3 linked regions of the Homo sapiens genome follow. The protein of the gene in region 3 purifies or fractionates together with the protein of the main gene of each other region. This does not show direct contact. Each region holds a gene or a part of one and is shown on either strand. Other genes may lie near its edges. The genes, in order: NDUFB6, ARMC9 and YME1L1.

Region 1 (3,653 bases), on a different chromosome or scaffold from region 3:
CTCCTGAGCCTCTGCACCCACCATGGAGGAGCAGGAGCTCACCTCTCTCAGGTAACTCCGGATCCGGCTTTCACAGCTGTATCTCAGATAGCCAGACTTATTCCAAAATCGGGACTCCAAGCCTTCAAACCACAGCGGGTCCTCAGCCCGGGTGTCGGCTGCGACGTTCTGGCTGACGTTGTACAGGAGGTCGGCCAGCAGTCTCTGCCTCTGTGGGGGCCTGCTCATCACACAGTAGCTGCCGGGCGGCCTGGATGAGCCACGCGTGCGGCTGGCGAAAAGCACTGAGGAAGCACCCGATGTCACTCACATAGCCCTGCCAGGCCTGGCGTGAGGTGAGCAGCACCAGCTCGGCATCGTCGAGGACGCTTCGGTCAGCTCCATGCCATCCTCGTACGAGGGAGCTAGAAGCAGAGGTAGCCCTTGCGCAGCATCTCCCGGCAGCTCCTGCCCGCCATGCCAAACTTCCTCGGGCTGCACAGGGCCCGCAGCTTCACAGTCTTGTGCTTCTGGAGCACTGCAGATGTACTCAACGCCTCTGGGCCCCGCAGGCAGTGGCACCCGCTGGCCAGCTGCTCAAGCTGGTCCAGGCCCCAGTCACAGGGCTCTACACCAGGTGTGCTCTGCAAAACTGGCATGGGCCGGGAACCGATCCCAGAAACTCAGTGCCATTTTGCTAACAGCATGTGTTCACTTCACGTCTCTGTGCCATATTTTGGTAATTCTCCCAATATTTCAAACTTTTTCAGATGGAGTCTCGCTCTGTCACCCAGGCAGTGGTGCGATCTTGGCTCACTGCAACCTCCTTCTCCCAGGTTCAAGGGATTCTCCTGCCTCAGCCTCCCCAGTAGCTGGGACTACAGACGTGCACCAAGCCCGGCTAATTTTTGTATTTTAGTAGAGATGGGGTTTCACCATGTTGGCCAGGCTGATCTTGAACTCCTCACCTCAGCTGATTTGCCCACCTCAGCCTCCCAAAGTGCTGGGATTACAGGTGTGAGCCACCATGCCTGGCCTCAAACTTTGTCACTATTGTTATATTAATATTTGTTATGGTAATCTGCACTCAGTGATTTTTGATGTTACTACTACAAATTTTAGGGGCAACACAAATCACACCCATATAAGATAGTGAATTTAATAAGTAAATGTTGTGTGTTGTGACTGTTCCACCAACTGGCCATTCCCCACCTCTCTCCCTCTCCTTGGACTGTCCTATTCCCTGAGACACAACAATACTGAAATTAGGCCAATTTAATAACACTACAATGACCTCTAACTGTTCAAATAAAAGAAAGAGCTGCATGTTTCTCACTTCATATCAAAAGCTACTTGGTAGGCTGAGGCAGGAGAATTGCTTGAACCTGGGAGGCGGAGGTTGCAGTGAGTCGAGATGGCACCACCGCACTCCAGCCTGAGTGACACAGCAAGACCTTGTCTCAAAAAGAAAAAAAAAAGATAGTGATTCCTCTGATGGATCTAGGCAAAGAAAATGGAAAATCTTCTGGGAAAGAATTTACTATCCTATATGCCATTAAGAAGATTTGTGATTAACAGGAGGAGGTCAAAGTATCAACATGAACAAGAGTTTGGAAGAAGTTGATTTCAACTCTCGTGGATGACTTTGAGGGGTTCAGGAATTCGGTGCAGGAAGGAACTCGATGTAGTGGATATAGCAAAAGAACTAGAATTAGAAGTGGAGCCTGACCATGTGACTGAAGTGCCTCCATCACATGATAAAGCTTGATAGATGAGAAGGTGCTCCTTTTGGATGAGCAAACAAAGTGGTTTCTTGAGATGGAATCTGCTCCTGGTGAAGATGCTATGAACATTGTTGAAATGACAACAAAGAATTTCGAATATTACATAATCTTAGTTGATAAAGCAGCGGCATGGTTTGAAAGGCCTGACTCCAATTTTGAAAGTTATACTGTGGGTAAAATGCTATGCTATCAAACAGCATCTCATGCTACAGAGATATCTTTCGTGAAAATAAAAGTCAATCGATGTGGCAAACCTCAGTGTTGTCTCATATACATATATATATATGTATATATGTACATATACTTATATATGTATATACGTATGTATATATATGTGTATGTATATGTGTGTGTGTGTGCATATATATATATATATATTTTTTTTTTTTTTTTTTTTGAGATGGAGTCTTGCTCTGTTGCCCAGGATGGAGTGCAGTGGTGCAATCTCAGCTCACTGCAACCTCCGCCTCCCGGGTTCAAGCGATTCTCCTGCCTCAGCCTCCCGAGTAGCTGGGATTACAGGCACCCACTACTACTCCCAGCTAATTTTTGTATTTTTAGTAGAGACAGGGTCTCACCATCTTGGCCAGGGTGGTCTTGAACTCCTGACCTCGTGATCCACCTGCCTTGGCCTCCCAAAGTGGTAGGATTACAGGCGTGGGACACCGCGCCCCGCCTGCTATCTTATATTAAGAAATTGCCACAGCCACTCCAGCCTGCAACAACCATCACCCTGATCAGTCAGCAGTTATCAACATGGAAGCAAGACCTTCCATTAGCAAAAAGATCATACATAGTCACTAAGGCTCAAATGATCATTAGCATTTTTTAGCAATGAAGTTTTTGTTTTTTTCTTTTTCTTTTTTGAGACGGAGTCTCACTCTGTCGCCAGGCTGGAGTGCAGTGGCACGATCTCAGCTCACTGCAACCTCCACCTCCCAGGTTCAAGTGATTCTTCTGCCTCAACCTCCCGAATAGCTGGGACTACAGGCGCCCGCCACCATGCCCAGCTCATTTTTTTTATTTTTAGTAGAGGTGGGGTTTCACCATGTTGGCCAGGATGGTCTCGATCTCTTGACCTCGTGATCCACCCGCCTCAACCTCCCAAAGTGCTGGGATTACAGGCATGAGCCACCGTGCCCGGCCTGTTTTTTCTTTTTAAGGCAGCATATCAACCTGGCACCTAGGCCAGAGTGCAGTGGCACAATCACAGTTTATTGCAGCCTCGAAATCCTGGGCTCAAGCAATCCTCCCATCTCAGCCTCTTGAGTAGCTGGGATTATAGGTGTGGACCACTACATCCAGCTATTTTTTTTTCTTTTTTTTTGGAAACATGGAGTCTCACTATGTTGCCCAAGCCGGTCGAACTTCTGGCCTCAAGCAATCTTCCTACCTTGGCCTCTCAAAGTGCTAGGGCTACAGGTGGGAGCCACCACACATGGCCCAGCAATAAAGTATTTTTAAATTAAAGCATATACATCGTTCTTTTACACTGCTATTACACACTTATACCACAGCACAGTGTAAACATAACTTTTATATGCACTAGGAAGCCAAAAAATTTGTGTAACTCGTTTTGGTGGTCTAGAACCAAAGAATACTTTTGGAACTGCATTGTTCTACAACCAATTCTGAAATATCTCTGAGGTATGCCTGTATTTGGCCAATCTCCCTATATATAACCCATCTCCTGTCACCACAACCACATCCCAGCATTAATACCTGCCTCACCTCATTCAGGTTCTGACATCTTGCTCTGAGTTACCACTTGCCTCACTGCCTCATACCATCCTTCTTCCAGATGTCCTCCTCCCTCTGCTCAGGTACCAATATCCTATACTAGGCTGTTGCCACTGTTGCTCCCCAAACAGATGTGCTCACCCTCCTCCC
Region 2 (3,653 bases), on a different chromosome or scaffold from region 3:
TAATTTAAGCTTTTTTGTTCTGTAAATGTGCTTAACCTTTTTGCAGTTTTCCAGAGTCTCTGCAATAAATGAAGAAGGTAGCTAGTTACCAAGAGAGCGCAGTCTTCACTGTATTCTAATAAGCCACCCTGATTGGGTCAGTGTAGTGTTTAAGAACAGGATGAACGGATAACTGGTTCTGCTGTTCTGTCCTGAGTGGTGGTTTCACCATAACCTGCGCATCCGGAGATGTGCAGAGCTGGCTTCTCTGTGGCATGTCAGTTTTCTACTAATCCAGATGGCATCTCATAATGATACCACACTTAGTCTCAGCAATTCTTAAAGCTAACCTGATGACATTCACCATCACACATTTTGATGGGGTATTGGATTTTGTAAGATTCTACACCTGGACTTTGGGTGGAAAATCATTCCTTATAATTTGCATTAACCAGGTCATTAAACTACCCTTACTCTATAGAAATGTGAATCAAAGTGATGTTAAGCTAGGCTTTTGCTCCTCCTTGTTTTCTTTATTTTTATACAGCTCAGAGTGCCTAGAGCTGGATTATAGAGCGTTTAGGTAAAAATCTATTTGTCAGCTGGGCACGGTGGCTCACGCCTGTAATCCCAGCACTTTGGAAGGTTGAGGCAGGCAGATCAGCTGAGGTTGGGAGTTCGAGACCAGCCTGGCCAACATGAAGAAACCCTAGCTCTACTAAAAATACAAAATTAGCTGGGTGTGGTGGCGCATGCCTGTAATCCCAGCTACTTGGGAGGCTGAGGCAAGAGAATCACTTGAACCCAGGAGGCGGAGGTTGCGGTGAGCCGAGATCGTGCCATTGCACTCCAGCCTGGGCAATAAGAGCAAAACTCCGTCTCAGGAAAAAAAAACAAAAAACCTATTTGTCAAAGAAGTATTTCTATGGTCCTGTTTCCTGGGTTAAGTAAACCAAAAGCTACAAATAAATATTTATTAGATATTTGAAGCAATGCTCTGCTAATTTTAAATATTGAAAAGGAAACTTTCAAAGTAGGAGGCCTCCTTACCACCTTATCTTTATTTAAACCCTTAATAAATATCCCTGAAATGTAAAGAATTTTTGTTATTTCAATTGTATGGGTTTAACAAAAATATTCCTCAGAGTCTATGTCTTCTGTAAGTTTGTCTTTTCTGATATGCATTCACATTACTGTTTCTTCTTTTTTTTTTTTTTGAGACAGAGTCTTGCTCCATCGCCCAGGCTGGAGTGCAGTGGTACGATCTCGGCTCACTGCAACCTCTGCCTCCCGGGTTCAAGCAATTCTCGTGCCTCAGCCTCCCAAGTAGCTGGGATTACAGGCGCCGTCACCACGCCTGGCTAATTTTTGTATTTTTAGTAGAGACGGGGTTTCACCATGTTGGCCAGGCTTGTCTCCAACTCCTGACCTCAGGTGATCCGTCCGCCTTGGCCTCCCAAAGTGCTGGGATTACAGGCATGAGCCACTGCTTCCAGCCTACTGTTTCCTCTTATATGAAAAGTTTCTTGGCAGTTTGTATTTACCGTAGGCTCTTTCTTCCCAGGCGCCCGCTGCAGACAGCGATGATTCAAGACGGCCTCATCTTCTGGCTGGTTGATGTTCTGAAGGACCCTGACTGCCTGTCTGACTACACGCTGGAGTACTCGGTGGCTTTGCTCATGAACCTCTGCCTCCGCAGCACAGGTCTCAGCCCCGACCCTCATTCTAGTGCAAGAAGGGGAAGAGATCTTGACTCTTGAAGCTGGGTTTCTAGTGAGCCTGATATGGTTTGCTTTTAGTCTCATAGAAAACTAAAAACAGAAAAAGGAGTAGAAAGCATTTCCAACTAGGTATCAAGCTGTTGAATCCCTGAAGGCAAAATCCATTCTTGCCCTGGAAAAAATGTCTTGTATATATGTAGTGCCTGCATTAAGAGGAGACTAAGTTCATTTACCTTTTTCTTTATTGCATTATTCAGAGGTAGGAAATTAAGAATATGATCCCCTTTTCTGAAGACAAAGAAGTGTGTTCCCAAGATACTATAGGATTAAGCTGGCCGCAGTAGCAGTGACACTAAACCACACTTCCTGCCCTGAATCACACTCTTTTCCCTGCCCCAGCCCTGGAGGTGGAGGTTCTCCTGTGGGCACAAGTCATTTATATACTTGATCAGTCATTTATATACTTGATCGCTGAAGGTAGTGATTTGAGCTTTTCCAGGTACAGGTACTATCTCATTTAAATTGTTACCTGGGATGAAAGAAGCTTCTTTAGAAGAGGTGCCACCTCCAGGCTGTGGCTTTCCCCAGCCTGAGCATCCAGTGTTAGGAGAGAAAGGCTCCCTGGGTAAACAGCTGGCTCAGGAGGACTTGTTGGAGCATCTTCCCCTCTATATACTTTGTAGACTGAACCATGTAACTGTGTGTTGTTGACTGAGTAAATGACTGTTATTTCAGTCATTTAAAAAAATAGCATGCAAAAAGTCCTAGCCTTTTTTTTTTTTTTTTGAGATGAAGTCACGCTCCATTGCCCAGGCTAGAGGCAGTGGCATGATCTTGGCTCAGTGGTGCAACCTCTGCCTCCCGGGTTCAAGCGATTCTCCTGCCTCAGCCTCCCGAGTAGCTGGGATTACAGGTGCCCACCACCACACCTGGCGAATTTTTGTATTTTTAGTAGGGAGGGGGTTTTACCATGTTGGCAAGGCTGATCTTGAACTCCTAACTTCAAGTGATCCACCCACTTCGCCCTCCCAAAGTGCTGGGATTACAGGCGTAAAGCACCGCACCCAGCCAAAAGTCCTAACTTCTAATATGTTTATCAGATTAGAATTAGCTTTTCTTCATCATCATCACCATATTTGCAGTGATTTTTATGATGATGTTTATAACTACTAAAATGCCTATATGGTCTTCCTGATGGTGGTGTCCGTGCGTGGGAGGGAGAACGTTGCTCTATAATGTATTGTGCTTTCACTGTAATGACTCGCTCTGTGCTCTGACCGGAGTAATAGCCACCACTTGGGATGGTTTACTGAGCACCGAGGTTCTATGCTACACTGAGTCCTTTACATACATTAGTCTACTTAATTTTGCATCACCTTTTGAGGTAGGTATGAATAGTAATCCCTGTAGTAAAGAAGAGGAAACTGAGGCCCAGATTGGTTACATGACTCACCCGAGGTCATACAGCTCACCCGAGGTCATACAGCTCATGAGCAGAGGAGCCAAGATTTGTCTCCAAGTCTACCTGACCTAAAATTGTGCTTCTGGGTTTAGACATGTCATGTTTAGCTTTGATTTGTTTCCCATAGGGAAGAACATGTGTGCCAAGGTGGCAGGCCTCGTGCTCAAAGTCCTTTCGGATCTTCTTGGCCATGAAAACCATGAGGTACTCATTCAGCACTGCTGGCCCTGGGCTCGGGGAGGCTACACTGGGGACCCAATGCCTGTGACCCCACAGGCACACAGCTGGCCCAGGATGGTTGCTGTATTTGAAAACTGTACATGTTCTCTGTCCTTCTGGGATTTTCATAAGCAACTGGAAATCTTTTATAATTTTTAGAATTTTGGAAGTCAGAAGCAGGATGTTCTTTCCGTCCCTGTCTGCTTGGCCCACTGGCCTGTGCCGGGCCCCTCCGGCATTGCTGTTTCTCATCATCTAGCCCCCAACATTCC
Region 3 (3,540 bases):
GCCCAGCTAATTTTTCTATGTTTTGTAGAGATGAGGTTTTGCCATGTTGCCCAGGCTGGTCAGTCTTACCCTTAAAACCTGCCTGGCTGGGTGCGGTGGCTCACACCTGTAATCCCAGCACTTTGGGAGGCCAAGGCAGGTGGATCGTTTGAGCCCAGGAGTTCGACACCAGCCTGGGTAACATAGTGAAATGCTCTCTACAAAAAATAACAAAATTAGCTAGGCATGGCAGCATGCGCTTATAGTCCCAGCTACTCAGGAGGCTGAGGTGGGAGGATCACTTGAGCTTGGGAGACAGAGGTTGCAATGAGCCAAGATCACAGCACTGCACTCCAGCCTGGGTGACAGGGCAAGATGCTGTCTCAAAAAAAAAAAAAAAAAAAAAAAAAAAAAAAAAAAAAAAAAAAAGACCTGCCTTCATGAATGGGTAGCTTCAACATTCAAATGCAATACATAACCAATCTCTCCACTAAGTTCCCACATCTATTTCCAACTAAGATGCCTCAAATTCAACATACATAATACTGAAATTGGGCCGGGCGCAGTGGCTCATGCCTGTAATCCCAGCACTTTGGGAGGCCGAGGTGGGTGGATCGCCTGAGGTCAAGAGTTTGAGATCAGCCTGGCCAACATAGTGAAACCCTGTCTCTACTAAAAATACAAAAAATTAGCCAGGCATGGTGGCACGCGCCTGTAATCCCAGCTACTCAGAAGGCTGAGGCAGGAGAATCACTTGAACCCAGAAGGCGGAAGTTGCAATGAGCCGAGATAGCACTACTGCACTCCAGCCTGGGCAACAAGAGCAGAACTCTGTCTCAAAAAAAAAAAAAAAAGAAAAAACAAAAACAAAAAACTGAAATCATAGAGCTAGGCATAGTGGTGTGTGCCTGTAGCCCCAGCTACTTGGGAGGTTGACTTGAGCCCAGGAGTTCAAGTCCAGCCTGGGCAATATAGCAAGACCCATCCCCTTAAAAAAAAAATGACAAAACCCACAAAAAACCAACAATAAAACACCTACTAAACTTATTTCTTAGGTTGCAGTGAGCCGAGATCATGCCACTACACTCTAGCCTGGGCAGCAGAATGAGACTCCATAAAAAAAAAAAAAAAAATTTATTTGTTGAATACATGTCAAAGACTCAATAAACAATACTCTTCCCATTCTATTACCTCTTACAGTTTTGCAGCTAAAGTACAATTGAATTTTATATACATATAAAATTTTATATATAGATTTTATTTCAACAGCTTATGGGGTACAAGTGGTTTTGGTTACATGGATGAATTGTATAGTGGTAAAGTCTGGGATTTTAGTGTATCCATACCTACATAGTGTACACTGTACCTAATACCTAATATGTAGTTATTTTGTCCCTCACCCTGAGAATTGAATTTTTACAACCATGCAATATAGAACTGTTCTTAGCCCGTGTCCAGGTTCATGAACAGAGAGGTGCCTTAATAACATTTAAATCATTGCTGAAATGCTGCAACTATTATCTTTATTTTTTAATTTTTTCCCCAGACACCATGGTGACTATTATCTTTATTTTATAAAATGATGTTTCTAGTGAACAGAGGGCCTTCAGCTGTTATTTTTTAAGAACCTGACTATTTAAGCACATTGTTCCTAAGAAAATAAATAAGCACAAAAAATATTATTACCCTTAGAAGGATTCTTATTTCTTGTTCGATGGCAGATTGGGTTTCTGGACTTAGTTTCCCTGTATCACTGTAGGTCATAACTCCAAGCTAAAACCAAAAGGAAGAAAGTAATTGAACAGAAAACCCCCAAACACCAACAAATTTGAAAGAGAAAGTACTATCCTATATATAAGGAAACAAATATATGGGGGACAAGAAAGAAGTACAATAGAAAACTGCATTTGAGGCCGGGCACAGTGGCTCACACCTGTAATCCTAGGATTTTGGGAGGCCGAGGCGGGTGGATCACCTGAGGTTAGGAGTTCGAGACCAGCCTGGAAACACGGAGAAACGCCATTTCTTCTAAAAACACAAAAAATAGCTGGGCATAGCGGCACGTGCCTGTAATCACAGCTACTCAGGAGGCTGAGGCAGGAGAATCGCTTGAACCCAGGAGGCGGTGGTTGCAGTAAGCTGACATTGCGCCACTGCACTCCAGCCTAGGTGACAGAGCGAGACTCCGTCTCCAAAAAAAATAAAAATAAAAACTGCATTTGAGGGCAAAGAAATTTCCACATTCTTCTGAAAGTATAAAGACTAACATTTAGCCAGGCATGGTGGCAGGTGACTGTAATCCCAGCTACTTGGGAGGCTGAGGCAGGAGAATCGCTTGAACCCGGGAGGCGGTAGCTGCAGTGAGCCAACATCACGCCACTGCACTACAGCCTGGGCAACAGAGCAAGACTCCGTCTCAAAAACAAAGAAACAAAAAAACACTAATATCAAAATAGTAAAAGTATGAGCAAGACAGAACATTTAAAATCTTTTTTTTTTTTTTTGGAGACAGGGTCTTGCTCTGTCACCCAGGGTAGAGTGCAGTGGACTCACTGTAGCCTCGACCTCCTGGGTTCAGAGAATCCTCCCACCTCAGACTCCCAAGTAGCTGGGATTACAGGCACACACCACCATACCTGGCTAATTTTTGTATTTTTTTAGAGATGGGGTTGTGCCATGTTGCCCAGGCTGGTCCAGAACTCACTCCTGGGCTCAAGCAATACAGTCTCCTCAGCCTCCCAAAGTGCTGGGATTACAGATGTGAGCCACAGTGCCCAGCCTAAAATCATTTTAAGTCTGGTTCTCAGTACTTTCTTGAAAAACCTTGGCAGCTACTTCAAATATAGAAATCCATAATTCACAGAGTATAGTAGTGCTTCAAGGAACAATGACAAGATGAAAATATGAAATAGAGGGAAACAGTAAAGTAACCAAACTTAGAAAGTAGACTCTTTCATGCCACATGGAAAAGCTAAGGAATTCACCTTGCTTTATCACTTAATTAACTCGTGAAGTAATAGTTACTATCTGGGCAGCTCATTCTCAGCAGCTAAGAGAAGGTCCATTTTCTTTATTCAGAGAATAACAATGTTCAGAATAAAGAGCCTCAAATCCATTTGGAGTGAGAGAAAAAGTGAATATTACCAATTTATAATCAGAACCAGCTCTCAAATCAACACTTGACACATAATTTGATACATGAAAAGGATTTAAAAAATCTATTACCTTTTCACTCATTCCAAATTTGGTAACCATCCGCTTTGCTATTTTAGTGGCATTATCAAAATCACTGGAAGCACCTAAAATAAAATAAAAACATACCATTTTAAAACATATCTTTAAGACCACATATAATTTGAACTAAAGCCATTCTTTAAAGCTAACCTGTTGTAATATGGTCGGTTCCAAATATAAGCTCCTCTGCCACTCTTCCTCCCATACTAACATCCATTTGTGCAAGCAGCTGGGCTCTAGTTTCATTCCATCTGTCATTCTCAGGTAACAGGGACACCTAGACAATTAAAAATTAATCAGATAAAAAATAAGCAAAGAGGCTGGGTG

The links.
Region 1: the proteins of YME1L1 (region 3) and NDUFB6 purify together in Homo sapiens (affinity purification with western blotting, with the first as the bait; one study listed by BioGRID). This does not show direct contact.
Region 2: the proteins of YME1L1 (region 3) and ARMC9 purify together in Homo sapiens (co-immunoprecipitation; one large-scale study listed by IntAct). This does not show direct contact.

What each region holds. Positions count from the first base shown.
Region 1 is NC_000009.12:32,566,609-32,570,261, forward strand, and holds part of NDUFB6 (NADH dehydrogenase [ubiquinone] 1 beta subcomplex subunit 6), read right to left. Parts: intron 253-3,653; exon of another isoform or gene 1-252.
Region 2 is NC_000002.12:231,275,093-231,278,745, forward strand, and holds part of ARMC9 (lisH domain-containing protein ARMC9), read left to right. Parts: intron 1-1,543; coding exon 1,544-1,683; intron 1,684-3,289; coding exon 3,290-3,366; intron 3,367-3,653. UniProt on the Homo sapiens protein: Involved in ciliogenesis. It is required for appropriate acetylation and polyglutamylation of ciliary microtubules, and regulation of cilium length. Acts as a positive regulator of hedgehog (Hh)signaling.
Region 3 is NC_000010.11:27,112,856-27,116,395, forward strand, and holds part of YME1L1 (ATP-dependent zinc metalloprotease YME1L1), read right to left. Parts: intron 3,491-3,540; coding exon 3,364-3,490; intron 3,279-3,363; coding exon 3,205-3,278; intron 1,753-3,204; coding exon 1,666-1,752; intron 1-1,665. UniProt on the Homo sapiens protein: ATP-dependent metalloprotease that catalyzes the degradation of folded and unfolded proteins with a suitable degron sequence in the mitochondrial intermembrane region.